2 linked regions of the Homo sapiens genome follow. The protein of the gene in region 2 purifies or fractionates together with the protein of the main gene of each other region. This does not show direct contact. Each region holds a gene or a part of one and is shown on either strand. Other genes may lie near its edges.

What was found. The genes of interacting proteins can lie anywhere in the genome.
Region 1: the proteins of ADAMTSL1 (region 2) and B3GLCT purify together in Homo sapiens (affinity purification with mass spectrometry; 2 studies listed by BioGRID and IntAct, with this or other methods). This does not show direct contact.

Annotation. Positions count from the first base shown.
Region 1 is NC_000013.11:31,283,475-31,286,974, reverse strand, and holds part of B3GLCT (beta-1,3-glucosyltransferase precursor), read right to left. Parts: intron 2,328-3,500; coding exon 2,214-2,327; intron 256-2,213; coding exon 156-255; intron 1-155. UniProt on the Homo sapiens protein: O-glucosyltransferase that transfers glucose toward fucose with a beta-1,3 linkage. Specifically glucosylates O-linked fucosylglycan on TSP type-1 domains of proteins, thereby contributing to elongation of O-fucosylglycan.
Region 2 is NC_000009.12:18,907,653-18,911,152, forward strand, and holds the end of ADAMTSL1 (ADAMTS-like protein 1 isoform 4 precursor), read left to right. Parts: intron 1-789; coding exon 790-896; 3' UTR 897-3,298; downstream 3,299-3,500.

The DNA.
Region 1 (3,500 bases), on a different chromosome or scaffold from region 2:
TTTTATATATTTTGTTCCTTAAGAGGATTGGTTCAGATAGAAGGGTAAACCCCGTCCCCGTTACTTCATCTTGGCCAGAAAAAGTACCCATCTAGTTTTTTGAATATGAATATATGTAGAATTTAAAGCCATTTAGGATGAGAATGACTCCTTACCTTATTAATGTATCATCATCCACAATGACTAACCATGCTGTTTTGTCCTGGCTACGATTCAGAAATCTTTCCAAAATGGCAAATGTCTTTCCACAATGACCTAGAAAAGGCAAGAAAAAAACTTACAATGTATTATTTCTTATAAAATATATAGAATTTGTTCATTTCTTTTTAGTTTTGAAGTGTTCTAAGAGCTTACATGCCAAAATGCAGCTTAAAAGTTCAAAATTTTTAAAAATAGCCTTCTCTAATTTTCACAGACACATTGAACCAGTGGGAACTTTAGAGATAATGAAATTCAAGCCATTCATTTCTCACACAAGGAAATGGAGACCTAGAGAGATGAGTGGAATTACACAGTCACACAGATAATCTGAGGCAGAGATAGAATTAGTAACTTCAGTCCAGGCAAGAAAGTTTTAAGACTCACAGCAATGAGCAATGGCATCCTTTCTTAGATAAACTTATTCTGAAGGAGCTGTTAGAACCCCAGGCACCACTGCCACAGGGAAGCAGCAGTGCAAAGGCGGAAGCTTATACCTTCATTTACTTATTTTGTAAATATTTACTACCACTAAGTTTCTAACATGCCAGATACTGTGGCAGGTACTAAGCACTAAAGATATAGTGCTGAGTAAGACAGAGTAACAGTCCTTCAGATACCAATAGATAAATTACAATGCTTTAATGGTAAATGCTGGACAAAAATAAAACACTTGGGAAGAGTAGTCAAATTGATAAACAGGAATATGCCCCTCATTTTAATTATTTGGTGACACAGTGGAGCACAAATATTAACTTATATTAATGACTATTAAACCACTCAATTTGACCTTTATTTTCTTTACTCTTGATCTCTGTGTATTTTTAACCATTACAATACGTGTTTCAAAGCCACCTCAAATCCCTTTTAGAACAAATATAAATATAGACAATAAGACCAGACTAGTAATGAAGACATCAAATAAGGTATAAGTAAATACATGATTATTAAACCCAATCTAAAATCGTTTTTCCAAATCAAACAGCAACAGACAGACTCAGTAATACACTTAACCTTGTTAGAAGAATTGGTAACTACAGAGATGGCATATCTGATTCTGCATTGTACTATATTAATGAAAGAATTATGAGTGACACTAACATAAAATAAGATAAATTACTGTATAGAACATAATCAGTTTGCTACTTTTTTTTTTTTTTTTTTTTTTTTTTACTCATAAAAGGGCATGGGGAACAAAAAAACTAAAGAACAAAGGGTGGCAGGAACACTGGATAAAACTTAAGATGAATAAAGAATATCTGAAGATGAGGTGGCCAAATTTTCACTTCCATTTTTTGACACAATTTTTTAAAATTTTTATAGATTTAAGAGGTACAAGTGCAGTTTTGTAACATCGACATATTGTACAGTGGTGAAGTCTGGGCTTTTGGTGAAGCCATCACCCGAAGAGTGTCTATCGTACTCAGTGGGTAATTTCTCATCCCTCGCCCCTCTTCTACTCTCCCACCTTTTGGAGTCTCCAATGTCTACCATTCCACTCTGTATGTCCTAAAAAGTGTTTTTAATTAGAAAGCCTGCAATTTGAAGAGAAAAGCAGGTTTATTTCCAACAATTTACTAATTAAAATCTTAACATATAGAATACAGTTTATTCTACATATAACTAGTGTAGAATGTGATTAGGTGGTACTCACGGGTAATATAATATGTGAACTAGACTATAAGACTGACAAGGAGAGAAGCTTTATGTGGGAATATAATAAACACCCCATCATGGTCGCAAAGAATTATGAAGGTATGAAAAATCTATTGTTAAATTCTGCTGTAACTATCATGTGCTCAATTATAGGATATAAGCTACTAAAAACTTGCAACACTTCGTACTATAAAGCCCTTAGTTTGAAAGAACCAATCAGTATCTGAGAGAAGGGAAAAAACTAATATGAGGCAAAAATTATAGCACTTATAAAACATTTCATTTTTATCCTAACCTAATTTACTGTATTTACAGAATGGCAATGTTTAATAAGGAGAGTAGTAAGAATTATGACTCACCTCTATCTGTATTAGGAATTCCCAAATCCACAGTAGGAATGGAATTTTCAGTATAGTCACTATAGTATTCAATGAGACTTGCCTGGCTCTCCCAAGTCTGCTTAACAATAGGTACTGAAAAAATTACAGAGGTGACAATCACTGGCACAGTTACACAAGGAAGCTTAAAAATTCAAAATGGCAGTATAATCATCTACAAAGGAAGAGAAACATTACTGGTTGTTCTTCAGGTGTTCCAAGAGTTGCTTGCTTCCAACCCTGAGAAATGCCAACGTTGTTGACTAAAACCCTCTTCTTGAAGCATTTTCAACATTCTCTAGAGTAAAGCATTTCTCATTCCTGGTGATGAATGCACTTACTTCCATATAATGATAAATTTTCTGGTTTGATTATGCTATTGTGTTTACATTAATGTTAACTAATTTTTCTTTTACCACGGAGCACGGTAAGAGAAAATCCATCCCTCTTACCGTGGAGCATGAGAAGACCTTTGCAAACTATGCATGTCCCCACCCAAAGATTCTAACAGAACTACCCAACCCTACAAAGGGCATGACCTTGCCAAATGAGAATCACTGCATATGATGACTGATATTACGATGTTGTACTTTTGAAAAATGTGGAAGTACTAACATTCAAAACTACTGCAGGCTTTAAAACTCTATCATTAGCAGCTAAATTGTTTTAACACAATAAACACAACAGAAAGCTGTCCTGGTTTTCTGTATTTTGGCTTTGGAGGCTCAAAGATAGCTCTGTCTGCATACCTGACATATAGACTTACCACTACTTGATATTAATTCACCTGACCAAGTAATTCTTTTCTTCTATACTTAAAAAACAAATTACTGCCTATGCATCTCTGAATTTTAAAAAGTGGTTTCTTGTTTTTTCAATAGAAAAAACATTTAGATTTTATATCCTGTCAAAACTCTGATGAACCAAATCTTCACTTAACTTTTGAGAAACTTTATCAGATCATGTATCTTTCCCCTGTTCCCAACTCTAATAGAAATATATACAAAAACTGATGTTCCAATGTAAAATTTAAGTGTTTAGCTAATAAGTAAGCAAATTCTGAGTCCAGCTCAGACAGCCCTTATATAGAAAATACAGAAGTGCATCATTTTATAATCTCTTTCACTGGCTTTTTTTTTAAAAAAACTGAGTTCTGCACATCTGCTAAAATTACCAAATTACCAGTTAAATATTAATTTCATATATTAAAATATAATTTTTCTGCAACCATAAAAAAGCAGATAGTTCTAAAGGTTTCTACATGTCAAA
Region 2 (3,500 bases):
GGCAGACGCCATGTAGGCAAATAGCCCACTTCTTTTTACACGCTGGGGGATGGATGATCTTTGTACTCGGGTAGTGTTAACCCATGTTTGTGTCAGTGGCTCACCATGCTCAGAGAGCGCCAATATTCAACGCACATAGTTAAAACTTACCAAACCAAGTCAGCACAATATTTAAGACCATCTAGTCTGTGCCAACACTGAACTAGAACGTCCTGGTGCTGTGTTTAAGGCATGATGGGTAGAAGGAAGAGAGACTGGAGGGCACATGAAAATAAAGCTTAACAGAGAAAGTAGGCCCAAGTGCCTGGGGATGGGGGCACCCGACGCAAGTCTCACTTCACACTCCTGCAAAGTCGGGGAGGATGCAGTGCTGGGAACCATCTTGAGGAGGAGAGTCATTTACTTAAAATACCAAAACCCACGGGAAAAGGCAGGTTTGCCTAGGGGGAGAGGTGATCACCTAGGAGATGAGGTAATCCCAAGAAGATAGAGAAAACAGGCACCTTCAGGAAGTAGAGGGAGCTGCAGAAAACAAGCAGACAGCCCAGGGAGGGGCCCCATCATTCAGCCAGACAGCTGCAGGCTGGTGCCACCCCTGCTGTTGGCAGCCTTGGGGAGCAAGTGGCTGAGCTCTGTCAAAGTTAGGCTGGAGAGCGGTGGCCAAGGCAGACCCCAGGATGTACCCCAGTGGCTGAAACCCCCGGCTGCACCTCACACAGGCTGCGTTCATTAGTCTCTGTTTCACATCTCTTTTCTGTCTCCTCTCCCGACCCCGTCCTCCTTTCCCAGTGGAGTGCAGAGACACCACCAGGTACTGCGAGAAGGTGAAACAGCTGAAACTCTGCCAACTCAGCCAGTTTAAATCTCGCTGCTGTGGAACTTGTGGCAAAGCGTGAAGATAGGGTGTGGGGAAAAACTCTACCCTGGCCACACGAAGGACTCACGCAACCACCTCGGACAGAACCTAAGCTTTCTTCATTTTATTTATTTATTTCCCCCTCCCCACTCCACACACACCCTTCCAACCTCCTCCACCTCCACCTTCAAGCATAAGGACGTCCGCGTGTTTTCTCTTTCAGTTAGCTGGAGGACAGGATGTTGGGAAAGGAAAGGACAGATGTCTAAAGGAGGTTGCAGAGCAGGCCAGGCAGACAGTGGGGGCTCCCTTGAAGAGCTTCCTCCCTCCCAAACCTGGGTCTCAAAGACCTAGAAAGAGGCAGGCACAGCCCCTGCGGACAGCAGGGAGCCAGAAGGTTTGTAGCCTATTGGTGCAAACATTGGACAAATTCCTGTGTCTTTCCTAGAAGCGCACTATCACAAACACAGGAGTGTTTTGCTCCTTTGTCTCCTCTTCCCCATCTATGTCCCTTTAGTCACAGTTAGGACAAATGGGGAGGGGACACCATGCTGAGGCAGAAACTAGCCCAGAACTCACTCAGTTCTTCTAGTGGGTGAGTGCAGAGAGAGAAGAACTCAGATCACCAGTAGGGAGAGGTAAAAAAGCAAACAAAGCAGGCTCTAAGGCACACAACATTGCAGAAAATGAGGAAGGGAGGGGAGGGAAGGGACAGAAGCAAAAAGGAGCCTGTGGTGTTCCCCAGTGGGGCAGGGTGAGCAGGGGCTTCCAGGCTGCATGAGGCTCATGGACCAGCTCTGATCCCATGCATGTGCGCATGCTCAGAGCCCTGCTGCCCACAACAGAGCACTGCGCTGCGTGGGAGTCCCCACTTCCCAAGCTATCAGAGTCAACGTCCTGCCTGTGCAGCTGCAGCAAAGCCAGTGAGAGGTGGGTCTCGCCATGCAGTAAGGCCACCCTGGCACCTCTTTATCTAAATCCGAAGTCCCCTAGCCCCGCACTAACTAACTGCTGCTGTGGGCCAGGGCCATTTTGAGCATGAATGGCCCAGGTTTTTTGCCTTCTAGGACCTTTGCTGCTCCACCGAAGGGCCAGGGACTATGGTTAACTTATCAACATCAACCCATTAACTAGTCACTGTGCCAGAGAGTATCTGTCAGGCTGTCAGGTTGTAGCAACCTCTTCATTCCAGAGCTGGCCCAGGGACCGGGGTGGGACAATGGGTTTATGCGTGTCCACAGTACACCCTCCCTCTCCCAGCCTCCACCCCAGGGTCTGCAGGTCCTCCGGCATGTAGTATTTATCTAGCAAGGCGGGGTGGTGGAGGCAGCACCCTGGCAAAGCAGCTCACACACTGCAGCCACACTCATCAGCTGTGGTGAGGCGGCTGGAGCAAAGTCAAAGTCATGCAGCAAAATGAAAACTCTGGGACTCTTCGGCAAAATCCTCATTAAGCCGAGCAGCTTTGGCCAAGTAATTTTTGCCTCCTTCCCTCGCGTGGCCTGAGTTTAGGAGCAAGGGTGGCCAGAGTCCCTTACCCACAGATAAGCCTCCCCTCATGAAATGCCACTCACCCCGGGCTACCATTGACATCAGGGCTGCATTTCCAGCCAGCCTGGAAGTAAAATTTGAGAGGAAGACAATATTAATCTGTGTCCCCACCTAGTGAGCTGTGGACAGGTTTAAGTTGGGTCTCCTTCTTCTTCACCACAAAAACAGGCTCTAAGAAATCATGTTACTAAAAAATCAGTGTAAAGTCTGTTTAAAATAAAAAAGAATGTTTTCTATGTCTGTATATCTTTTGTGAATATTTATTAGGATTTCTTATTAAAAAAGTGCAATATTAATAATTGTACATTGTCATCCAGAAACAAAACTATTGGGGGGACTTTATTAACTAACTTCCTGCAGTTGTGTTCCTGTAAACTCAGTAGTGATTATTATATTTTTCCTATTTTTAATAGAACCTGGTGTTTAACTCTGGATCCATTCACTGTACAGGATGTGTTGTAAAAACTAACATGGGATGCTGAGGCAGTAAGAGGGAATTCATTTGTGGCATAATAGTTATGCATGGAATGATAAAGACAGACAAATTCCATACTACTACTAATGTGGTTAATTATTTCTAGTTCGATAGTGATTGAAAATCAGTGGTCACTATTTACATTTCCTAAAGAGCAAGCATCCTCCAGCTCCATGTTGGGTTGGAGCAGTTGGCAGTGGGTCTCAGTGAGCTGGCAGAACCTAGGTTTGGGTGGGAAGCAGAATGCTCGTTGCATGAAATGAATGTACATTTAATGTTTGTTCTGTGAATTGCAACTCAGCAGCACCACAAGACAATGAAGGCTGCTGGCTAATGTGGAAGGAGGCACTTTCTCCTCTAAAACACAAAACTGTATTTGTATTTTTTGTACAGATAATACAGCTTATTTATTTAAATCTTGTCGTCTGAGTCTCTGTTAAACTCAGCCTTCCTTCCCCTGGTGGTTTATGCAGGGAGCAAGAGAAGTCCCTGTCAGTTGGGTGGTTCCCAGCCAGTTATTTGCGTCTGGCTGAAGTGGAAGGATTGCAGTTTTCATCTTTACACAGGAAGCTGGGGGCCCATGCCTAGAAGTGCTAGCTCTGTAAATAAACCCAAAGA